Homo sapiens: one gene and its partners. The protein of the gene in region 6 interacts with the protein of the main gene of each other region in a pairwise test. Each region holds a gene or a part of one and is shown on either strand. Other genes may lie near its edges.

Region 1 (3,500 bases), on a different chromosome or scaffold from region 6:
CAGGGCCTGGTGTCTCTGCATGCACCAGGGCTTAGTGCCATGCTGGTACAAGCGTGGGGAGGATGCAGGAGGACTGGCATGGGATGGGGAGCACTGCCTGGGAAGCCCCTTCTTCCTGGGGCTACTGGGGTGCTAAGAAAGTACCCTAATAGCTCACACCACACTTTGCTTTCTCCTTCATCACATGCTAGGACGCTCTAGGGCAATTGAGCTGTTTTCCCCTTCACCCATCAAGAAGAGATATCGGCCTTTCCGCAGTCACAGTCTTTCCTAACTCAATTCAAACTCTGCTGTTGATAAGGAGGGCTGTAGCCAGCCCAGGCTGCCCGCTTCCCAGCCTCCCCTGCTCCGCCTTCCGCCCCCGAGGCTGTGCACCATGTGCAGTGTCTGGTCCCCAATAATGAGATTAGTCTTGGTTGCCTTTTAATAAAACGCAGTGGGCACCGGGAGGGAGAGCGATGCTTGGCTCAGTGAAGATCTGCGGGTCATGCTGTCCCTAATGCGCTGATTGCATTAAGTGGATTCTGGCTGCAGGTAGGGTGAGTGGGTGGGGACGAGGGTGACTCTCACAGCTCTAAGATCCAGAAACTGCCAGAGATCTGTCACCCTCATCCTGAGCTGTCACAGAGGAAGGCAAGTGACTGTGTGAGGGGCTACGTGAGCTCCCTCTGGTTGCAAGGTTCTGGTCTGCAGGGCAGTGGAGCCCTTGGGGGTGGGGAGTGGCAGCTTCCAGGCCTTGAAGCTGCTGCCCACAGTTCTGCTCTGAGAACACAGAGGGCCCAAGAACAGCCGGTGTCCCAGGGCTGCCCAGTGAGGAGGGAAGAGCGAGAGAGTATTCTTGCTGTCAAGACTGGGAAATGAGGGCCACGATTCAAAGCCTTGCTTCCTAGGGAGAAATCTCACCCAATGTCCAGGTTTGCAAATGCAGCAGACACATTTGTGGGTGGGTCAGATTCTGTCCAGAGATACCAGAATGTCTATCCCTGTACACCCCCACCTCTGGCATGGGACAGCCCTTCCCTGCACACAAATGGGTTATCAATTATGTCCAATGAATGGCCTCACGAGAGTCCTGTTGCGGAAGGGATCTTCCGCTTATCTCCTGTAAAGCACAGAGCCACGCTCAGAACCTACGGACTGTGGTCGCCTGCAGGCCAGCCATGGGCTTTCCTTTCATCCTTACACTTAGATTTTGAAGCCTCGCCTTTGAATCAGAAGCAGGCTGCTGTCATTCCAGAGGCCGCTGTTCATCTCTGGCTTCCTCCCAGATGCCCAGGTGCCCCGGGTGCCTGGGCTGCCTAGGCCAGGGCACCCGCCTTAGGAGCAAATGGAAATGCATCTTCCTCGGCTTGTTTGCCCTCCTGTAACCCCTTCCCTCTTGCCTTCGGTCAGGGCCTGCTGTCTTGCACGCACCAGTGCTTAGTGCCATGGTGGAACCGAGGCGGGGAGGACGCAGGAGGACTGGCACAGGAGGGGGGGCACCGCCCGGGAGCTTCCCCTGCGTCAAAGCAGCTTCCTCAGTGAGCTCCAACACAGACCCTTGCTGGCCTCAGTCTCTGGAAAGACTGACAGCACCACCCTAGTTCCTGGGCCTTGGAAAGGCCAAAGCCACGAGCAGGCAGCCACTGTTCGGCAGGAGAGCTAGAGATGCTATTGCCCACAGACATCAAAGCAGGGGTGCCGTCTTCCGTGTGCATGCTGGGACGGGTCTTGGAGGCCCAGATTAGCTCCTGGCTTGAACTTGTACCACCCTTACCTGAAAATTGGGTCTGTACCAAAGCTCATCTGCACGCCCCTTTAGGGCAGGGACCAGGCCCCCTCTGTGTGGCCCTAGCACCTGGCCAAGTGCAGGTGGCTGCGGGTTGAGTTGAGCTGCTATTTGCTGATGGGAATTTGGGGGCCTGTCGCTTGTCCTCTTTGAGCCTCCATTTCCTGGCCTGTCAAATTGGGGCAATGCTCCTGTTATCCACACAGTGTCATTTAAGGGTGACATTAGAGATGGCATGAAGTGCCCAGCACAGAGCAGGTGCTCACAGGCTGTTGGGTCCCCACCCTACTGACACACCAAGCACACGTCTGCCCTGCCATGGTGGGGAGCAAACAATGTTATGGTTCCGACTCCCCGGGAGGCCAGGCCGGGCATTTCACTGTAGGATGTTGAAGCCGCAGGCAGTCGTCGCTGCGAGAAGAGAGCCTGGCTCTGATGTCCACTGTCTTCCAGGGAGCCTGGTGGGAAGGAAGGAGTGGGCAGCGGCCCCTCGCTCTGCGGGCCTCTCCTGCCCTTTGTACTCCACGAGGTGTGAGGAAGTTGCCGGGTCACCCAGCAGAGGGAGAGGTGATGTCCCCTCTGTTCTTCCTAATTTGTAGCTAATCAGATTCTGCCTGCAGCCAGGCTCTCTGGGGATGAATCTAATAAAGGAGGCGGCGACCTGGAGAGGAGGACAGACAACAAGTGACCAGGGGGGACAGCACTTCTTTCAGTACATTTTCCTGTTAGACTCGGGGTATTAGAGACCCAAAGATACCCAAGGAGGAGTGAGAGCGTCCCTGCCTTCGAGGAGCAGACAGGGCACCGCGAGGGTAAGGAGGCTCCGGGAGAGCCTGGGGACAGAGTGATCTGCGCACCGCGGTGCCTGAGGAGTGGAGGCAGGGGTGTGGGCCCACAGCAGGGAGCCAGGCTGGGCCATGTCCTTGGATTCTGTGAGCCCAGGCGTCTCCTCTAGAGGGCCTAGCAGGAACAGTGGGGGCTGCAGATGGAAACGGGCAGGATCATGCCATGCAGTTGGCATTTCACTGGCACTCGGGGGCACTTACGCAGGGGACAGCATGATGTTGGGAGCTGGCTTTGTCCCTGGCATGTCTGTCACGTTGAAGAGGGAGAAGCTGCAGGCCCTGACTTGGGTGGGGCAGTGAGGATGCTCAGGAGGGAAGTGAGGGGAGGGGTGCCAGCATGCGGCGGCCTGGGCAGCCTTCTGTGGAGGAGCTGAGGTGTCACCTGGGCCCGGAAGAAGGGCAGCCCTGCTAGCTAGTGGGGAGGGCATGAGAGAACTTGGCGACGATGGGAGAGAAGGTGACTTGGGACGAGCTGGGTTTGAAGCGTCTGTGGGATGTCCAGGTAGAGATGAGTAGTGAACCGTCAGAAATGGGGCTTGAATTTGGGGTGGCGGGGACAGAACTGATACCCGTGTAGGTGACAGATAAGGACAGAGGCAGGAGTTCCAAAAATAGGATTTATTGTTGGCTGGGGCTTCTGGAATCCCGTATTCCCGTCCACCCTGGGAATGTGGATTGGAGCTATGTTTCTGGGAGATGATTTGATGGAATGTGTCAGAAGTCTAAAACAGAACCTAGCCCTTGTTTCAGGATTCCCTGCAGAGAAGTTTGCAGATGACCACATCCTGTTGTTTATTTGGTGGAAAACTGAAATCGAAAGCTAGCTAAATGCTGAACAATGGGAACTAGTTGGCTAAAAAATGGCCGTGCAATGCAAGAGTGTGAGG
Region 2 (3,500 bases), on a different chromosome or scaffold from region 6:
GAAACATACATAAATATATGTATCTATATATACTTATGTATTTGTTGTTTAAACAAAAAAGAATTGAAGTTTTTATTGAAGAATATACATTTCTTTCCATGCCAATGAATATATAAAGTGCTCAGAACAGTGCCTTACACATAGTAAATGCTACATAAATGTTAGATACAATTATTTTCATCAATTATTATTTTGAATGTTTATAGCATACCAATTCTGTATCAATGAACAAAGTATTTCCAATTTTTCACTATTTTAAAAAACAGAATCATCCTAATAGCTTTTTTTTAATTTTTTTAGATTAAATTGCTAACAGTAGAACTGTTGAGTCAGTGGGTAGGCAAATTTAAAAATGTCACATATAGTCACAAACTTCCCTTCAGAAAAAATGAATCAATGAACCTCAGGCAAAGGGTTGGGAGAGTGATTTTTTTCTACATCATATTCAATACCACATATCATGATTGACCTTTTACATCTCTGCCGTATTAATACATATTTTTATTTAACTTAGTGTTATTTTCATTTGAGTTTAAGTTAAAATTTTTATTGCCAGCAAAAATGAACTATTATTGAATTATTTTATTTTATTTTTTTTGAGATGGAGTCTCGCTCTGTCGCCCAGGCTGGAGTGCAGTGGCACGATCTCGGCTCACTGCAACCTCCACCCCTCCAGGTTTAAGCAATTCTCTGCCTCAGCCTCCGGAGTAGCTGGGATTATAGGTTCGTGCCACGCCTGGCTAATTTTTTGTATTTTTAGCAGAGACAGGGTTTCACCGTCTTGGCCAGGCTGGTCTTGAACTCCAACCACCTCGGCCTCCCAAAGTGCTGGGATTACAGGCGTGAGCCACCGTGCCTGGCCACTTATTGACATTTTTAATTTTTTTTTAGGAAACTGCCTTTGGTAACCCAATGCCCACTTTTCTATTAGATTCTCATTATTTTCATAGTAATTTGTAAGAGTTCTTTTGTGCATACGTGTCACTAGGACTAGTCACAGAGTCACATAAGACTATGTGTTCTATTTCTCACTAGAGTTTACTTCTTTTCATTTTTGCTTTTTAACTTTGTAGAATAGCTCTTTAAAAATTGGGTAGTATAAGATCTATCCACCTTTTTCCTTTATGATTTGTGGCTTGCTTGTCCTGCTTTGAAATTTTTTCCTCCTCCAAGCACATATAAAGACTTATCTATATTATCTACTAGTAACTTGAAGACTTTCACTTTTTAAAACGTATTTAAGTTTTTGATACTTTTGGAATTTAACTGGGTATACAATATTCAATAATTTTCCTTTTTCTAAATGGTTATTAAGTTGTTCTATTATTTTTTTCTCTCAGATTTGAAATGTTATCTTTATCTTGTACTAAAATGCTCATACATAAATAGGTTTATTAATATTCGTTCCATTGATCTGTCTGTCTCTTCTGGAACCAATACCTTCCAATATCTCACCATTTTAATTATCTGCAGTAATAATAAAAAAAAATGTTAGGTGCTTCTGTACCAAGAAACATGCTAAAAAAGTTTTGTGGGGAAAAAAAGAGAAAATCTGTATGGTTAAAAAAAAAAAACTATAGCTAATTTGCTTTTATTTCTTTACTGGCCATCTTCTTGAAATTGTAGTTTCAAAGCGTTAAGTGTACTTTCCCCATGCCACTTATTAATTTGGGAACTTTCTATATGTGATATATACTATGTCGTACACCACTATTATTCACTTCTATACATTGTGGGAAATACGGTGCTGGGAGAAGCACTAGAGCCTTCTACACAATTTATACCCATGGTACTATAAAATAATTAGCCATTATTTATAAAGCAAGCCTTATTATACACAGAGAATAATTGTTGTTTCAAAGTAAAAAGTACAACTTGACCTCTTCTCTCTCAATATTTTTAAAAGAACATAAAACAAAACTTGACAAATATAATATCTGATAGAATGGAGACAAAAAAAAAAAAAAACCTTCCAGGTAGGACCAGGAAGTCAGCCTAAGGTTTAGGAAGCAATGCCTCAGAAGAGGCATCGCTGCTGCCAGCCATAAAAGCAGAGCCAATGCAAACTCTGGACATGAGCAGAAAATGAAAACAAAAACACAGACGCGCACACACACAACCCCTTAACGTCTTCATAATTAAAATCTACAAATTAATGTTGGTAAAATTTCTGATTTAAAATGGAAATAAATGATATTCAGATATAGGAGAATTTATTGCAGTTTCAAACATCCTTAAGTATCCTGGAAAAATAGAAAATTGTTTATGTACCCTAATGCATTCTAAGTAAATATTGCAGATGGACAGTAACAGCAATACAGAAACACAGAAAATGTAAATAAGAGTAAATATGTTATTACTATATGAAATAAATGACAGAATAGATTTGTCAACACAGCAACTATAATAATTGCTACAGTCAAATTTATTTATTGTCATTTAATTCTGAAGTCATATTCCCCCTTTCACACTAGATTCAAAGGTAATTTAAGAGTAAGAAAAAGCAGTAAACCTTTAATCAGTCTCTCATGTTTAATTTCTTATAGAAATAATCTCTCAGAAGAAACACATCTGTTTCCCTGCCTCCTTTCCCAACTTTCCACCTTCTTTTCCAAGTTCCAACTTATAACTTAAGATACAAAAATTACATTTGCCATCATTCATACCTCAATGATTACAGATGCTATTGGCTGGAAAGGATTCGTTGGTTCTGGGTCCAACTCAGCCAGACCACTGGTTCCATCGAGTTCAGCCTGCTCCTGTTCATTTTGTTTTCTATCGTTTGAGGAAAAATAATTGAAATTTCCTTTGAGAAAGTGCTGAACCATGTTAAAGAAAACTGCAATAGGTATAAGGCTATTACATGTAGTAATTTAAACATCTGGACATGGTTTTGAATTACTGAGAGCATTTCAAAAATCCTTATGCAGGTAAGAGGCTGCTTCCTCCCATGTAAAGACTAATCATTTCAATTAAAAAAATGCTGATAAAAATGACATTTCCTATGAGTGACTTCTTAATATCAACAGTGCAATTATTCTTCCATGTGCCAAGGGTATTACTGATCAACTTATTAATTACCCTCCAAAATCAATGCTGTCCTCTTTACTGGTGTTAACAAATAGTAATTATTCTTTTTTTTTTTTTTTTTTTTTGAGTCGGAGTCTTGCATTCTCGCCCAGGCTGGAGTGCATTGGCACCATCTCGGCTCACTGCAAGCTCCACCTCCCGGGTTCACGCCATTCTCCTGCCTCAGCCTCCTGAGTAGCTGGGACTACAGGCGCCCGCCACCAGGCCTGGCTAATTTTTTGTATTTTTAGTAGAGACGGGGTTTCACCCTATTAGCCAGGATGGTCTCGATCTCCTGACCCTGTGATCTGCCTGCCTCTGCCTCCCAAAGTGCTGGGATTACAGGTGTGAGCCACCGCGCCCAGCCAAATAGTAATTATTCTTATTAATTCTTTTCTTAAGGGCTAAGTCTTCTCTTACAAAACTAGGAA
Region 3 (3,500 bases), on a different chromosome or scaffold from region 6:
TGCTTGGCACATAGTAATTATTAGCTGTTAAGCTATAACTTAAAATTTTAAGGCATTTTTCTAGTACTTTTGGCTATAATAGCATCACCTCAGACACCCTGCTTTAAATCACTGGAGGCATCTGGTATGGTGCTTCCCTTCCTCTCATTTCAGTGACTATTTAGTGAGCTTTGCAGCCTTCCTTAGATCCACCTCCTCCTTCCCATTCCCAATGTAGAAAGTTCTGTCAGAGTCACAAATGTTCTCTTGGCTCCAACATCTTTAAGTGCAAAAACTCATCAGCTCCCTACTAGGGACCTGTTAAGTAGGGTTAAGGGACCCTTTATCCACTCAGAGGTAAAAACCACGAGGAAGCCCCCCACCCCAAAACACAAAGTTTTTGTGAAGTGTCATTTGAGCTATTATTTGAAGCATAGGTAAGATTTCGACAGGCAGGAAACAGGAGAAAGGATATGGTAAACAATTTTGACTAAAAGAAAAAGGGCAGGAAATTCCAAATAAGGTCACAGGGCACTAAGAAGTGAAAAGCAAAGGGAGAGACTGAAGGGGCACGTGGGGAAAAGGACTGAATGAGAAGGGCAGGACAGAAGCACTTATGGAGACAGCGAACAGAAATTTATATAGATGTAAAGGGAGTAGGGGTGAATTTTAAAACCATAAAAAAAAGAAAAAAGGGCAAAGAAAAGCAAGCTATAAATACAAAGAATTGTCAACTTATTTTCAGTACCTCCTGGTATTTAACCTACCAGCTACATGATGTTGGGGTACACAGACTTGAGATTTCATACCCTCAATTTAGAAGATAAAGTCAAACTAATAGACCTGACACTGAAGACTACATAATCTTGCTCATTCTGTTTTATTACCCAACTGTCACCTATTACTCTACCCAAGGCTGTACAACAGCACTTTCTTAGCTACTTTTTGGACATAACATGTTCCTGTTAATGACTGTTTATGAGATTGTCCTCACAATAAAATGCTTACGCTCCACTCTTAAAATTCTACTTCCAAGGTTTCATTTAAACCCCATATTCTCTGGGAACCAATCCAGGTAACTGTGATTTCTCCTTTATCCAATTACCTACAGGACTCACCACTACTTTGGATGCATAATGACTTAACACGCTGAACAGGATCACACCATTTCACAAGAACATCACTTTCCAAAACAACTGTAAATCTTTGAGAACAGAGACTGTTTCACACATCACTCAACTACCTAAAGGCACCTAGGATAACACTAAGCAAAACAAGCCCTCTAAAATACCTGCTGAATATAATGAGATTACCTCAGCTCTTCCAGCATGATCCAAGCCAGAGGCCTACTACTTCTGATTACACTATAATGCATCCTTCTCCATAATTTAGAATCTTCAAATACTTACTGATAAATAGTAGGAAGAGCAGTTATGATAAACCGTCCACTCAGTCCTACAAATAAAGAACACACAGCAGGTTTTACATAGGCCAATCACTGACTACTTAAAACGTGACTTTGAATTATTTAAATACATACTAATAGGAAAGAATATGAAATTATACCTAATAGTTGAGCTTCGTAATACATAATTTAAAAATGAATTATGTACTTAAAGCAACTTTAAAAAACACAATACTGCACATTATCTCAGTTAAAAAGTATGTAGAACTAGAGTACTGAATACATTTTTAAATAAAAACACTTCAACATTTATATCACTGTCAAAATTAAGACTACTAGTAATAAGAGCACCTTGTGCTCATGGGAGAGCACAAGGTAATAGGGTCTTAGATCTAAAATCCAATGGAATTGTACTTGACATTCAACAAACAAAGGCAGTTTATGGTGCTGCTAAAAATGGAAAATACTATGAATCTTTCATGAGACAGGCAAAAATAATAGCAGCTAACATTTATTGTTAGCCATGTGTCAAGCACTGATATTACAGAGAATTGACCTGTGCCTCAGTTTTCTTATCTGTGAAATGGGGACATTACATATTTCACGGGGTTGTATAAGGATTAAATAATAAACACAAGATATTTGGAAGAGTGCTATAATAGGCAAGCGCTCGATAAATATTACCTATTATTACCATTTGGGATGGGACAGCCAAGAATCCAAGGGTAGTGTGACTACCGAGAACGGTAAGATGAGATTGGTCTGTGGAAGGAACCTCCTTAAGGGCAGGACCTGCCACTTGTCCAGGGACCAAGTCAGGAGTGCACTTGACCTCACAACCACGAGGGCTTTATATTTAGAAGCCCACATCCTCAAATCATAGGTACTAAATTTAAAACTCAATTTCAGAGATTCAGGTCTTCTTTTGTCAGGGAACGTGACCTTGACTCCAGAAAAACACTCAACCACATGCTCCTTATTCTGAAGCCTGGTATGGATGCAAATGTGGCTTGGCCAATGTTCACCTGAACCACAGTGTCCTAGGACTTCTCAAAGGCATCTTACATACTAGTCTGGGGCCTGGGATGCAAAGAACAACAAATCAGAGGCAGTTATGTGGGCAAGAATAAAAAGAGGGTAATGTCTTCAAGAACCCTTAAAGCAACACATTCAAGAAATGAGGTGTATACACAACCAGGGAATCTCCATTTTGCAACCATTGCACACTGAGCCCCCAGCAGGGAGGTGGACAAGTCAGGTTAACTAGCTGCAGACTGTTAGGTTTTCAAAACCTAAAGAAAGGTAGAATTAAGACTATGCAATGTAGAAAAAAGGATAAATATATCAACCCAAACAGCAAAGAAACAAAACTAACCAAAGACTTACAGTACCTGGCTGCTCTGTGACATCTACTTTCGCAATATTAACCTCAAGATCTTCTCCCCATTCAGCAAAACTTTCCCATTCCGGTTGAAGATTTTGACAAGCAGGGCACCACGGGGCATAACTAAGAAATACAGATTTTTTTTTAAAAAAAGTTAAGCACTTTAGTATGACCATTTATCTTGGGATAAAAAATTTAAATGTATAATTTATGAAGAATATTTCATATGAAAACACTGAAGATGATAAGGTGGTTAATTTTATGCAGATGAAAAACTTTTAAGGGTAGATCTAACAATCCGGAAATCAAGAATGATGAACTGATGATGCTAATCAAATAAAATTCTGAGAATAAGACACAGGATTTTTTCACATGCAAAACAGCTCTTTAGAAAACTTTTGCATTTCTCTATTAACGGTGTGGCCACCAGAAAGCTCAAGACCAAAGTTAGAGCTTACCAATTTTAATAATTTATAATGCAGAGTCACAAATGCAAGGTGTTGGAAAAACAGAAGTGTCCTGGGCTGTGGTGAATAAGAAAGCACATATTCCATCTTAAAGTGGCAACCATTATTAAGTAGGATTGCCACTAAGGATGCTGGCACACTAAGGCTGGCTATTCATATTTAAAAGAAGATGGAGAGCTGCATTTTTATATGAGAATGTTACCTCAAAAAATAACCCACACACAAATACTAAGCAGGCCAAACAAAACTCTTGGCCAGTTAGGTC
Region 4 (3,500 bases), on a different chromosome or scaffold from region 6:
TACCCCATCCCCTTAGGTCCTTTGTGACCATGTGCTTTATACCTGAATCAGTTATCTTTTGCTGCATAACGAACCACCCCAATACTTAATAACTATTAAAAATAGCTCGTTTATTTTTAAAGCAGTTTCATTATTTCTTAGGAGTCTTTGGGTCTCCTATAAAGTTCTGCTGATTTAGGCAAGGCTAATCTCAGCTGAGCTCAATGACATGTCTGTTGTGGTCAAGTGATGGGATGCTTGTGAGCTGCTGGTCCCCCTACTATTATTAGCGGTACACTCAGAATGCATCAACTGCCTTTGCATTATGCTTGAACTAGTTATTACCAGGAAGGCCACTCTGCCTCCAAAATGGGGAGAAGGTACACGCTTACCCCCTAGGTCAGTACAAAGAATGGAAACCGATGATGTGTAAAAATACCTGCTGATGATCTCGTCAGTATAGAAGGAGTAGCACTTTGAGATAATACTTACATTACTCAAGCCAGACATCCTAGAGGAGATGAGCTTGTTTGGGGATTTTGATGGAAAAGGAAGGCTGAATCTTGGCAAATGTGATAAGGCTTAGCTGTTGAGTAGGCCGAGCAAGAAAGGGTGGGGTGGGGGCAGAGCCAAGCAAAGGGCTGTGGGAAGTTTGCCAGGCCAGAGAGGAGGCGTGCACCAGGAGGTCGGCAGGCAGACTGTCTGGGGCCAGCTGGGGACAGTCATAAAATTTAGACTGTCCCAGCAGGAAGGGGCTTCAGAAGTTATCCAGCCTCATCGTCATTTAATAACGGGGGACACTGAGGTCTCAGGGTCGTGGACTTGCTTGTGGCCATCCAAAGGCAAGTAACAGAGCCCAAGTTCAAGCCCTCATCTTTTGACTTAAATCAGATGCTCTTCCATTCCTTATGGCTCTGCTTGGGGAGTTTCTCCCAAGTGCACAGGGAACTGGAAGGACCTGGGAAACCACACTGGAGCCTCCAGCCTGCAGCCTTTGCCTCTTTTTCTTCCCCAAAGTCCAGCCTCTTCATTCCTTTCGGAGGCCACTGCCCTGGCCTTGGCTTTTTCCCCACCTGAGAAGAAGCAAGTCAGTGGAGAGTTTCCTGAGGGTACGTGGCAGGCCTGCCAGAGACCTCACTCCTCCAGCAACCTAGACGTAGAGCAGGGTGCCTTTCGAGGGGAATGACTGGATGGCTGGGAGGAAGCCGGGGGTCCGGTGTGCAGGGGGTAGAGGGGTGGGCAGATCCTGCCTGTCCCTGCTAGGATTGTGAGGCAGGTATGGGTGGGTAGTTTCTGCCTCTCTTCCCTTCCTAGCTCTTGTCTACTGTACCAAAAGGGGAAATGACAAAAAGTCAGCTCAAAATTCCAGCTGGAATACTTGAAACACTTGACACTTGCCAGGAAATTAGTTCTTTTTTATTTATTTTTTATTTTTTGACAGAATCTCACTCTGTCGCCCAGGCTGGAGTGCAGTGGCACGATCTTGGCTCACTGCAAGCTCCACCTCCCGGGTTCACGCCATTCTCCTGCCTCAGCCTCCTGAGTAGCTGGGACTACAGGTGCCTACCACCACGCCCGGCTAATTTTTTTTTTTTTTTTTTTTTTTGTATTTTTAGTAGAGACGGGGTTTCACTGTGTTAGCCAGGATGGTCTCAATCTCCTGACCTCATGATTCGCCCACCTCAGCCTCCCAAAGTGCTGGGATTACAGGTGTGAGCCACCATGCCCGGCCGAAATTAGTTCTTTAAAGTAATTTTTCCATATAGAACCCATCCAAGAGGTAGATGATTCAGGGTGGGACAGGATCCAAGGCTTTGTAACCAGAGTGGAACTCTTATTCAGAGCTTAGTAAGCCAAGGCAAAAGGACTCTTTGTGAAAGGTTCAGTTTATAGGATGATAGCCCCATATGCTCTGTGGCAGCTCCTGGGATGGGGCCTCATCTTCAGCCCCGGCCCTGATTTTGTAACTGGTTATGTGCAGATGTCAAAGATGGCCCCAAGACCCTGTTCCAGCAGCTTAGGTGATCTGACATGTGGGTCCCAGGCAGGAGGCCACTATGAACTTTATAGGCTGCAAATGAACCCATGGTTTGCTTTAAAGGCCCAGCAGAGATTTAAGGGTATGGCTGTAGGAATAGTTACTGCTATTGCCCTGCCACCAGGTGATCCACTTAATGCGTCAGCCTTTGTATCCCAAGTCCTCCACCTTTCTCTGACCCCTTAGACTGCTGGGGGCCACAGGGTAAGGCCTGGGGCTGGATTGGACAGGAGCCCTTGAGAGGCTTGTCTGAGTCTGTGCTCCCCACCTTGAGCACAGGTCATGGAAAGTGACAGAAGCCCTTACCTGCTTCCCCCATGGGGAGAATCGGCTTACTCCAGCTTGCGGCACAGGGCTGTCCACCACCAAAGCCTCAGAGGAGTCCAGCTGGGGTAAAGCCGCCATCTGGGCAGTGTCTGCTCCTGATGTTTGCATCTGGGCTGTGTTCTACTGGTGACAGGAGGAAACTCTGCTGAGGAGATGCTGAAAGGGCTGCCAGGCAAACACAGCCCTTGGGCATCTCATCTTCCTGCTCCATGTCAACCCAGGCACCACAAGGCTGTGCTTAAAGGTAGGAAAAGAGTGGCCTGACACTGGCCAGCAGCCTGGCAGAAGCAGGGTGACCTCACACAGTTATTCTACAAGCTCACCCAAAGTCCATAAGCCTTTTTAAGTGTTGAGAACTCGGGGCACACTGAGGACCTCTTCGTTCTCCCAGGGCCTGGCACCCATGAGGTTTCTAATTGCTGTTTGTTGAGCAAAGGAACAACCTGAACTCAAAATTCTCCAGACTTGAGACTCCCTGCACCTTGAATCTGTGCCCTCTGACAGTCTGAGCATTGAGGAGGGTGGCTGGGAGGGGACAGGCTATGGGATACATGGCCAGGGAGGAGAGAGGAGTGAAAGAGCTAAGGCAGTCAGGAAGGCACCTGCACCAGCACAGCCTGGGACAGCACGAGGGCACTGGAGAGAAGGACAAAGGAGAGGAGCCCAGCAGGCGGGAGGAGGGCTGGAGGACAGCAACGATTGGCTTCTCCTTGCTTCAAATGGGTGCCAGCACCCAAGGGTGAGCAGCGCCCCAGAGCCCCTGAGAATCCTGGGCCAGGCCATGGGCTACCAGTGTCTGTCCACTGGGAGGGAGGCCAGGCAGAGTGAGGTGGAGACCCACACACGCCAGCAGAATACACAAGAACGCATGCTCAGATGCCTGTCCAGGTGGATGTAACTCATATGTGCACATATTCCCAAACACAGACCTCCAGGTGCAGGTGCCTGCCAGCTAGACCAGTATATGTGTACATCATGTGTATGGTTGATAACTACATATGTGCATGAACACACACATGTCCCAGACCAGATTTGTACTGATAAGCACAGTAGGGTAGAGTGCAAAGGTCATAGGGTCACAGGTCCCAACCCCTCCCTCCACTAGCAAGCTCTGTGTGTTTAGGCAAATTACTTAACCTTGACCTTCAGTATTATA
Region 5 (3,500 bases), on a different chromosome or scaffold from region 6:
AACAGTTTTGCTGGAAAAAAATTTTATTTACTATAAAGAATGAGGTTTCTGAATCCCTGATAAATGTATATTTATTTGAAATTGCTTTACCTATTCCAAGAATAAAGAAAGTGATATCTATATCTAGACTTTTAGAGTCAGGTAGGACCTTACAGATTACCTAATTTAACCCTCTTAATTTACAGAGAACAATGCTGAGAATTGGGAAGGCAAAGGAACTTGTCCAAACTCTCATAGCAAATCAGCAGCAGACCAGGACTAAAACCTAGGTCATCTAAATCCCAGTCCAGAATTCTTCCCATTCACTATACCACACTGCCCTCCTCACTTCCACACAAGGCAATGCTTCTGCACAGACAATGAAGAGAACAATCATATCTGATTTTATATGTCTTGGAATCTTCATTTTTTATCTGTTTTGTGCTTCTAAATGACTTAATGGCCTGATTTACTCATTAAATTTAGTGAACGGCAACTGAATTAATGACCAACTCATAAAAAATATCATTCTTTTAAAGAACTCTCTGGCCGGGCACAGTGGGTCGTGCCTGTAATCCCAGCACTTTGTGGGGCTGAGGTGGGCAGATCACATGACACCAGGAGTTTAAGAGCAGCCAGGGCAACATGGTGAAATCCCCACTCTATGAAAAACAAAAACAAAAACCTTCTGTAATTTAGTGTGGTCTAAAGCCTTATTCATGTTTAGCAACCACAATATATCATGATTCAAAATTATGCTAGATTAAGAGGGTCATCTCCTGATACATATCATATCAACAAATATATGTGATAATCTCTGATGTTGGAGAGAAAGATACAAAGGAGTGAAGTGGTAAATAATAACGAAAGTTTAAACAGTTTGACACTAGGGTCATAGAAGGAATGGCACAGGAAATACGTGAGTAATTACTAAAGACAATGAGCTCCTGTGAGACAACAACTTGCTCCAGGGTACCATAAACAAGAAAGGCTTTGCAAAGGAGGACTATTGTACTGGGTTCTGGTAAAAGGTATCTGGAGAGGTAAACAGGGAAAAGGTGGGTAAAGGCAAGGGGAATGGTGGGATGAGAAACATAAAGGTGGACATGTACACATTTTACTTAAGGGTCAGTGAGTTATCCCAGTTGGCTAGAGCTGCAGGTCTTTGGGCAGGGGAATACTGAAGGATCAAGCGAGAAAGTTAATGTGGACCTTGGCTTTAAAAGGCCATGTGTTTCCTCCCATCTCCTTTCTGAAATCCAAACCCACATGATTTTAAAATATATATTCTAATAGAAAATAAAACAATAGTACCTTCGTTTGTTAACAGGCAAAATGTCCTGATAATGAAGACGAAAAAAACATCTAAAGTGAAAAAAGATAGACTGTTACACTACTCATTTCGGTGTGCTAATATATGCCTAATTCAGAATAATAAGTGGCTTAACAAATGAAAATACTTACGTTAATAATGTTAAAGCATTTACAGGTGACATTATCCACAGGACTTGAGCAAAAAAATAAGAAAACAAATTGAATTTTTAAAGGATGACCAAGTGCTCTGTGGCTCTTAAGTTTACAAAAGTGCCATCTGATATAATTATCTGCATAATTCTTAAAACTTTGTCTTCCTAAGCCAAAGAATCTAAGTTAAAATAGTTAAAACTGTGTCCTGACACCCGTTTTAGAACCTGCATTGTTTACCCTCCTGGAATTCCATCTGCAATAGGATGTTTTACTTTATGCTATCATTGGGGAATGGATAAGAGCATTAGCTATTAAAGTCTAGCAGTCTACCACCAAAAATCAAACTGTGGTGAAGGAAAAGACAATAAAAACCAAACCAAAACAAAAAACCATAAAATGGCATGGACATCCCAGAGGCTTCAAGGAGCTTATGAGTAAAGGATAATTAGGACGTCACTGAAAACAGTGACCAAGGGAGATCCCATGTTAGGAGCTGGTGATGTTTCTTTCTTTCTTTTTTTTTTTTAATTAGCTGCCTACAACTTGGAATCAGAATGTCTTTTCTCAAAGAAACATTCAAAGAAAACTGCATTACCAGGCTTAGCCAAACAAATAAACCTATTTTAGATAATAACATAGATGAAAAACTAAACATTAACTGTGACGAATAATAAAATTAATGTAAGCATACTGTACAATACTTAAAATACATGCTCCTCTGGGACCTAGCAATCCCTAAGACAAACCTGCTTTTACTTCAGCTTATTTGAGCTGAGTTAAACATCCCCTCCCACTAGCCCCCAGCTTCATCAAACCTGGATGACTCACTGGCCTGACCCTTAAGCACCTTCCCAGTTTCCATGGTTTTCAGTCAAGCTGTTCCCCTTGCCTTTGACACCTTTTGCCCTAGTATGCCTCTCCAAATACTCTGACAGTACTCACATCAACTCCTCATTCAAGGGTAGAGGGAAGTAAACTGTGGTGAAACAGCTAAAATATTCTAAAAACAACTGTATATTCCTTTCACTTAGGAGAAGTAGAGATGAGAAGAGCAGGGAAGGACTTTTCTGATCTTCCCTAGGCCCCAGCTAGTCCTGAGTCTGACAGATCACACTGCCTCCAGACCATGATATCAAGGAAAGGGGAATGACAGTGACCCCCTAGACTTTGCAAGATGCATGAGGGCAGTGACCAAGTGTCCTCCTTTCCTTTCCAGAGCCTAGAACTGTGCCTGTACATGGCAAGTAAATACGGAAAGAAATGGTATCATAAGCCTGGCTTCCACATTTCGTCATCCTACAGCTCTCCTCCCTCTTCCTGTACCACTCATCCCTTCTTTCTGACCCCTCCAAAGTTAATTCAAGGACCCAGCAAGTTATGTTCTAACTGCAACTACCAAGTAGACAATTTTTTTCACCAAAATGCAGGGTACTATATCTGCGAAAAGAGGGCCAATGCCAATCATTACCACCCCCAACCAACAGACAGCACCCATACCCTGTGAACAACAGCTATTTAGAAACAAATGGTCAGAAGATACATGGCCTCACAGGAGACACCTGGCTTTACCGTAAGCATCCTACTAACTCTCTAGGGTGTTTATATGCTAAATGTCAGGTATGCAAAAAAGCTATTAAACATTTATTAAAAGCATGAATAAATGAATAATGTAGATAAGTTGGGTATTCATAGATTGGGGAATATTTAGATTCATCAGTTTAAAAAATGTATATACAACTTTTATTAGATGTATACGTTGAGCCTAGGACTCCAATCCTAATAATTTAAATGTACTCATGAAGTGAAAGAATAGAAGAAAAAAACTAACATGATGACATGGAATACCTACTCTAATACTAACAACTAGTATAAAGTCCTACACCAGCCTATACTTTAACATAAACCAACGCTAATTTCCTCGTTCAAAATGTCTACAAATACAGAGAAATAAAAATTATTTTTGTTGTTTTTCTAAAAGTATAGCTCTTTCAAACTTTCAATTCCAATGTACAAAGTGTTAATACTGTAGTAAAAGTAACATTTTTGTTGTTAAC
Region 6 (3,500 bases):
TTAGTGGAGACAGGGTCTCACCATGTTGACCAGGCTGGTCTCAAACTCCTAACCTCAAGTGATCCTCCTGCCTCAGCCTTCCAAAGTGCTGGGGTTACAGGTGTGAGCCACCATGCCTGGTCATTTTTTATTTTTTGTAGAGATGGGGTCTCACTATGTTGCCCAGGCTGGTCTCAAACTCCTGGGTTTAAACAGTCCTCTCATTTCAGCCTCCCAAAGTTCTGGGATTACAGGCATGAGCCACCATGTGTGTCCTTTGCTTAACTTATAAATTCATCCCACTTGGTGCTGTGGTGGGGACACTGTGTCACAGGGGCTCTGCTAACCAAAGGTCCCATGAGCACCTCATTTCATGGCTGGGTAAACCGAGGCCCAAACATCTCAGGGCAAGGATTTCAGCCTGAGGGCTGTTTGTCCTCTCTGAGCTTTGGTTTTCTTTCTTTTTGAGGAGGGTGGGGAGACTGGGTTCTTGCCATTTTGCCCAGACGCTGGGCTGAACTTGTGATTCTCCCACATTGGCCTCTCAAATAGATGGAAACTCGGCAAGTCTCAGTTTTCTTAAAAAAAAAAAACAAAAAAACAAAAAAACCAGACCAACCATTGTTCACTGAGCTGGTCTCTAGCACCAGCACTGTCACCCTGAAGTCTGTCCCATCCTGCCCAGTGTCCTGCACGTGGGGTTCCCCACTCTGGTGGCAGAGTGGCCATTGGAAGTTTGGTTTGTGCCCCAGTGTTGGGCCAGCCCCCTCTGGACAGCTAGTGGGCAGAGCTGAGGGTAGGAGTGGGGGCTCAGGGGAGCGGGTGCCTGTTTGAGCTGCCAGGTGACAGGCTGCATGTCCCTGGACCCTGGCAGGGAACGGGCTGTTGAGGAAGAAGACGCTGGTCCCAGGGCCGCCAGGTTCGAGCCGCCCGGTCAAGGGCCAGGTGGTCACCGTACATCTGCAGACGTCGCTGGAGAATGGCACACGGGTGCAGGAGGAGCCGGAGCTGGTGTTCACTCTGGGTGACTGTGACGTCATCCAGGTGCGGGCTGGGGCGGGACAGGGCAGGGGCGAGGGGCGTGCCTTGCTGGGTCTGAGTCTGCCTGACAGCTGGCTATCCCCACACACCCCAGGCCCTGGATCTCAGTGTCCCACTCATGGACGTGGGGGAGACGGCCATGGTCACTGCTGACTCCAAGTACTGCTACGGCCCCCAAGGCAGGTGAGAGTCAGCCACCCTTAGGTCTCTGCAGGTCTCAGGAGGGGGATGGGTGGAGTGGGTGTACCCCTCGGCTCACCCCATCTACTTGCCCATTTTATAGACAAGAAACTGAGGCTGGGTGAGGTGGCTCACACCTGAAATCCCAGCACTTTGGGAGGTTGAGGTAGGAGGATTGCTTGAGACCTGGAGTTCCAGACCAGCCTAAGCAATATAGACCGCATCTCTATACAAAAAAATTTAAAAATTAGCTGGGTGTGGGCCGGGCGTGGTGGCTTACGCCTGTAATCCCAGCACTTTGGGAGGCCAAGGCGGGTGGATCATGAGGTCAGGAGATCAAGGCCATCCTGGCTAGCACGGTGAAACCCCGTCTCTACTAAAAATACAAAAAATTAGCCAGGCGTGGTGGTGGGTGCCTGTAGTCCCAGCTACTCTGGAGGTTGAGGCAGGAAAATGGCGTGAACCCGGGAGGCGGAGCTTGCAGTGAACCGAGATTGCACCACTGCACTCCAGCCTGGGCAAGAGAGCAAGACTGTCTCAAAAAAAAAAAAAAAAAAAAAAAAAAGCTGGGTGTGGTGCACACCTGTAGTCCCAGCTACTGAGGAGGCTCAGGCAGGAGGATCACTTGAGCCCACGTTTTTGAGGCTGCAGTGAGCCAAGATTGCACCACTGCACTCCAGCCCGGGCAACAGAGTGAGAACCTGTCTCTTAATAAAAAGGAGGAAAACCGAGGCTTAGGGAGGGGAACTCGTTCGTCAAGTCCCGCAGCTCCAAGGCGGCAAGTCACTTCCCCTGCACTTTACTGAGGAGGGAATGATGGAGGGCAGAGGGGAGACAGATCGGGGGCTTGAGCCAAGCTCACTCCTTCCTAGCCAGCCCAGCGGGTTTAGGGGTCACCAGGTCTGAGTGCTGCCCCTGCCTGCTCCCACCCAACTAGCAGGAGCCCATACATCCCCCCGCACGCGGCCCTGTGCCTGGAGGTGACCCTGAAGACGGCTGTGGACGGGCCTGACCTGGAGATGCTCACGGGGCAGGAGCGCGTGGCCCTGGCCAACCGGAAGCGGGAGTGCGGCAACGCCCACTACCAGCGGGCGGACTTCGTCCTGGCCGCCAACTCCTACGACCTCGCCATCAAGGCTATCACCTCCAGCGCCAAAGGTGACCGCCTGGGTCAGATCTCCACCATCTCCCCTGCAAAGGTGTCCACTCCGTGCCAGAAACTTCCAGCCCCAGAGAGCCTCAGACTCAGAATATTCTAGAATAGCCCAGAATATGGGTAGATCCCCAACTGCCCCTAAGCTAGGGCCTGTTACAGACTCGTGGTATATCCCAGACCAGTGGAGTGTTGTAGAATGCAAGTGGATATGGGGATGGGGTGACCATAGACAGGGCCAGTTCACATGTACCACAGGCTAGGCCCTCGCTTGCTTAAGTCTCCATCTTGTAGCTTCCTCAGGAGAGCCCCAGGAAAGCGTGGCCCTTGGTCCGGGGTTAAAATTGGGGAAACTGAGGCCAGAGAGGCAGCCTCCGCAGAGGGGTGGGTGCCGGGGTGTCTGGTGGCATGGTGACGGCTGCCGTGGCGGGCACTGTCTCCCAATAGTGGACATGACGTTCGAGGAGGAGGCACAGCTCCTGCAGTTGAAGGTGAAGTGTCTGAACAACCTGGCGGCCTCGCAGCTGAAGCTCGACCACTACCGCGCAGCCCTGCGCTCCTGCAGCCTTGTGCTGGAGCACCAGCCAGACAACATCAAGGCTCTCTTCCGCAAGGGCAAGGTAGGCCACACCGGGGTGCCAGGCCGGGTCACTCAGCCTGGGGTATACGGGGTGGTCCCCAACCCTGCATTTGAGAAAGGCATAGGTATATAAGCCAGCTGAGCTCTGTGGGGTGCAGGTGGAGAAACTGAGGCCCAGACGGGTGCAGGAGTGTGGCCTGGTCACAACAATTCATTGGCTGAGGCCAGAATTTGATCCTCGAGTCTTGGGTCCCCAACCTTTGGCCCAGTGTTTTTTGTTTGTTTGTTTGTTTGTTTCTTGAGACAGAGTCTCACTCTGTCACCCAGGCTGGAGTGCAGTGGTGTGATCTCAGCTCACCACCGCAACCTCCTCCTCCTGGGTTCAAGCGATTGTCCTGCCTCAACCTCCCAAGTAGCTGGGACTACAGGTGCGAGCCACCACACCCAGTTAATTTTTGTATTTTTAGTAGAGATGTGGTTAGCCATATTGGCCAGGCTGGTCTCGAACTCCTGACCTCAAGTGATCTGCCCGCCTCAGTCTCCCCATGTGCTGAGATTACAGGCCTG
Region 7 (3,339 bases), on a different chromosome or scaffold from region 6:
TTGCTACACAGTCCTAAATCTTAGAAATCCTCAGTGGCCATGCTCATTACCCCAGCACTTTGGGAGGCCAAGGAGAGAGAATCGCATGAGACCAGGAGTTTGATAGCAGCCTGAGCAACAGAGCAAGACCCCATCTCTACAAAAAAATAAAATAAATTAGCGAGGTGGTATGCACCAGTAGTACCAGCTATTCAGGAGGCTGAAGTGGGATGACTGAACCCAAGAGTTTGAGGCTACAGTGAGATATGATTGTACCACTGCCCTCCAGCCTAGGTGACAGAGAAAGACCCTGTCTCTTAAAAAACAAACAAAAAAATCCTCAGAGATCATTTTTGAAACAAGCTTCAATGCAATGTACAATCAAATAACTTTCCTTGGTCCTTAAATTACTCAAAATAGGTAATTTCTAAATATCAACAAAATACTTTCAAGTTTCTATATCTAGCAACATCTCATTCTATGAACTAGACCAGCTCTGGCAATGAAGACACCATAGGAAATATTATTTATAGTAAACTTTATTTTCATTGATATTTCACTTAACATAATTTCAAAGTCAGTCTGTGGTCTAAGATGAGCAAAAGAAAAGATATTCTAAATCTCTCAAGAGATTTTTTTTCACACTGTTCCTCTGAGCAGGGAATGGGGTTTCAGGGTTCTCAATGTCAACACCTAACATTTTACCCTTGAGATTTACCTATAGATACAGAAAGAGATAAAATCAATATACAAGAATCGATCTCTATGATGGTCTCAATAAGCTCATGTTACATGCTCACCACCTCTGTAGGGTTATAATGGTAACAACTGATTTTCCACCCCTCCGCCAAATTTGGTGTCTTTTTTTTTTTAGGTAAAATGTCAGATGCAAAAATGCTGCACTTATTTCTCTTAATACATTGAAAATAGTGGAAGATGCAGATTTTTAATCCTTCATGAGTCCAAGCTGGAACATGACTTCTGCTAATCAGATGTCATCAACATACGAACTCCAACTTTGGCGGCCATCAGCAAACTGTTTAAAACAAGTAAGATAGAAAACATCAGGTAAAGGATAGAACAGGCAACTATGTTTTTAAGGAACTAAACTCTGCAGGTTCCTCACAACTGTGTGGGGGAGGAGGTACTAAGGCAAGAGTGGTCAGAGGTAAAATTTCCATCCCTGGGGGAACCAGAGAAAAAGCAAGCCAAGGGACAGTTTCACTGAGGTCTTAAAATAGCACACATGAGCTAGATCCTAATCCAACTGCCAGTAATTTGAAGAGATGAAGAAATGGAGGCAAGAGAAAGCAAGGCCTCCCCACCATCACAGATCTGATTTATGGTAGACTCCAGCCTCTCAGTTTACTGTTCTAGACCTTGCTCCATACTGACTCTTTTGCTTCAGGTATAAAATATTATACTGGCAGCATCACGACTATGATCAGAGTAGAGTATGTAATCTTTCTTGAAAACAGGATTTTAAAAATTCCCCTGCCTTCAGGATGTCTTTATCATACTTAACAAGTGAACTTTTTTTTTTTTTTGAGACAGACTCTCACTCATTGTTGCCCAGGCTGCAGTGCAGCAGCACGATTTCAACTTACTGCAACCTCCGCCTCCCCAGTTCAAGCAAGTCTCCTGCCTCGACCTCCCGAGTAGCTGGGATTACAGGCGTGCACCACCGCACCCACCTAATTTTTGTATTTTTCATAGAGAGGAGTTTCACCATGTTGGCCAGGCTGGTCTCAAACTCCTGACCTCAAGTGATATGCCCGCCATGGCCTCCCACTGTGCTTGGATTACAGGTGTGAGCCACCGTGCCTGGCCTACAACTACATTTTTTAAAAACCACAATTTGGTTTAGGTATTATAATCAAAATTAGAAAACAGGATTCAATCAAAATTTCCTTTTAGCAAAATTTTCTACAAAAGACACCTACACACCTAAGAAATATGGGACCCCCACACATCCTCCGCAAGTCACACAAAAGGCTGCAGTCATAGCTTTGCAATAAAACTTCTGCCACCATATAGGAAGGAGCTAGGACCAGAGAACAAAGCCATCTCCACAGTGAATGGATATACTCATGTCATTTGACATTAAATCAACTATTGTTTTTGAAGCATCTCCTATTAGTGTATAAGTCAAACGTCAGTTGATGCATAGCATCAGATACTCTGAAACAAGTAAGGTTTTGAATGCATAAAGTATTCTGGGCAATAAACTGAACTCTACATGGTAAAGAAGAGTAATAGAATGAAAGTACCTGGCACCTGCAATTAAACCTACAGGCATGAATTTTCCATAGTAGTAGGATCTCATTCCCATAACACCAACAAAAGTAACAGATGTAGCGGCTGAAAAAGATACAAAGAAGGGTCAAAACTCATTAGTCTTCTACGCAGGGGAATCAGAAGTAGACCAAGCCCCACCAATCTCTCAAGGCTCACGCCTCATCCTATGCTTATTCCTCCTTCCCCAAGTAGGGGAGATTACTAGCTGCCCACATCCTATGGGTCCAAATACCAATACTGGCCAAATAGGGCCCTTCACAGCCTGGGCCCTACCTGCCCTTCCAGCCTCATCTCTTACCACTTGTCTTCTGCAAAACCCACACTTTAGCCATCAATGTGTTAGTTTTCTCCAAAATGCTGTTGTTTCTCATGCCCTGCAGATGCTATCGCCCTGCAGACGCTATTTCCTCTACCCTGCATGCAATTCCCACTGGGTATCTGTCAAAGCACCTACTACATGTCAAGCGCTGTGCTAGGAGCTGGAGAATACAAAAGTAATCGTAACTGTCTTTGCCCTTTTACAATGCTTCAGGTCTGATGGGACAAGACTTTAAACAATCACACAAAGAAAAACAAGGTACAATGTGTGCTTCAGGTATAATTGATGCTACACAAAAAAGCTCAACAGGGGGATCAACCTATTCAGGGAGATCATGCTAGGCTTTTAGCCAAGGAAGTGAAGACTGACTGAGATCTGAAATTACAGCAGGCGTTAATAAGCTGAAGGATGGGAATGCCCTTTCCAGGCAGAGGGGACAGTATATGCAGAGGCCCTGTGGTGACAGGGAGCATGGCACATTCACCCTAAAAGGGCAGCGTGGCACAGAAGTCAAGATGCAGTTTGTGAGTAAGAGGCGCCAGACCACATAGAGCCTTGAAGGCCATACTAAGGATTGGGTTTTCATCATAAGAGCAATGAGAAGCTATTAAAGGATACTAAGCAGAGGGATGCATAAAAAGAGTTGCATTATTATTATTATTTTTTGAGACAGAGTCTCACTCTGCAACACACGCTGGAGTGCAGTGGCATGATCTCAGCTCACTACAACCTCTACCTCCCAG

The links.
Region 1: the proteins of FKBP8 (region 6) and CYB561 interact in binary tests that used the Homo sapiens proteins (3 or more experiments, as listed by UniProt).
Region 2: the proteins of FKBP8 (region 6) and ARL13B interact in binary tests that used the Homo sapiens proteins (3 or more experiments, as listed by UniProt).
Region 3: the proteins of FKBP8 (region 6) and TMX1 interact in binary tests that used the Homo sapiens proteins (3 or more experiments, as listed by UniProt).
Region 4: the proteins of FKBP8 (region 6) and MYLK interact in binary tests that used the Homo sapiens proteins (3 or more experiments, as listed by UniProt).
Region 5: the proteins of FKBP8 (region 6) and ELOVL4 interact in binary tests that used the Homo sapiens proteins (3 or more experiments, as listed by UniProt).
Region 7: the proteins of FKBP8 (region 6) and TMEM14B interact in binary tests that used the Homo sapiens proteins (3 or more experiments, as listed by UniProt).

What each region holds. Positions count from the first base shown.
Region 1 is NC_000017.11:63,439,807-63,443,306, reverse strand, and holds part of CYB561 (transmembrane ascorbate-dependent reductase CYB561), read left to right. Parts: intron 1-2,479; exon of another isoform or gene 2,480-2,580; intron 2,581-3,039; exon of another isoform or gene 3,040-3,107; coding exon of another isoform or gene 3,108-3,115; intron 3,116-3,500. UniProt on the Homo sapiens protein: Transmembrane reductase that uses ascorbate as an electron donor in the cytoplasm and transfers electrons across membranes to reduce monodehydro-L-ascorbate radical in the lumen of secretory vesicles.
Region 2 is NC_000003.12:94,039,155-94,042,654, reverse strand, and holds part of ARL13B (ADP-ribosylation factor-like protein 13B), read right to left. Parts: intron 2,776-3,500; coding exon 2,667-2,775; intron 1-2,666. UniProt on the Homo sapiens protein: Cilium-specific protein required to control the microtubule-based, ciliary axoneme structure. May act by maintaining the association between IFT subcomplexes A and B. Binds GTP but is not able to hydrolyze fit; the GTPase activity remains unclear.
Region 3 is NC_000014.9:51,243,247-51,246,746, reverse strand, and holds part of TMX1 (thioredoxin-related transmembrane protein 1 precursor), read right to left. Parts: intron 2,892-3,500; coding exon 2,776-2,891; intron 2,658-2,775; exon of another isoform or gene 2,523-2,657; intron 1,435-2,522; coding exon 1,389-1,434; intron 1-1,388. UniProt on the Homo sapiens protein: Thiredoxin domain-containing protein that participates in various redox reactions through the reversible oxidation of its active center dithiol to a disulfide and catalyze dithiol-disulfide exchange reactions.
Region 4 is NC_000003.12:123,702,833-123,706,332, reverse strand, and holds part of MYLK (myosin light chain kinase, smooth muscle), read left to right. Parts: intron 1-2,323; exon of another isoform or gene 2,324-2,467; intron 2,468-3,500. UniProt on the Homo sapiens protein: Calcium/calmodulin-dependent myosin light chain kinase implicated in smooth muscle contraction via phosphorylation of myosin light chains (MLC). Also regulates actin-myosin interaction through a non-kinase activity.
Region 5 is NC_000006.12:79,941,054-79,944,553, forward strand, and holds part of ELOVL4 (very long chain fatty acid elongase 4), read right to left. Parts: intron 1-3,500. UniProt on the Homo sapiens protein: Catalyzes the first and rate-limiting reaction of the four reactions that constitute the long-chain fatty acids elongation cycle.
Region 6 is NC_000019.10:18,537,074-18,540,573, reverse strand, and holds part of FKBP8 (peptidyl-prolyl cis-trans isomerase FKBP8), read left to right. Parts: intron 1-853; coding exon 854-1,023; intron 1,024-1,114; coding exon 1,115-1,203; intron 1,204-2,137; coding exon 2,138-2,358; intron 2,359-2,800; coding exon 2,801-2,973; intron 2,974-3,500. UniProt on the Homo sapiens protein: Constitutively inactive PPiase, which becomes active when bound to calmodulin and calcium. Seems to act as a chaperone for BCL2, targets it to the mitochondria and modulates its phosphorylation state.
Region 7 is NC_000006.12:10,754,143-10,757,481, reverse strand, and holds the end of TMEM14B (transmembrane protein 14B), read right to left. Parts: intron 2,341-3,339; coding exon 2,250-2,340; intron 1,016-2,249; coding exon 964-1,015; 3' UTR 501-963; downstream 1-500. UniProt on the Homo sapiens protein: Primate-specific protein involved in cortical expansion and folding in the developing neocortex. May drive neural progenitor proliferation through nuclear translocation of IQGAP1, which in turn promotes G1/S cell cycle transitions.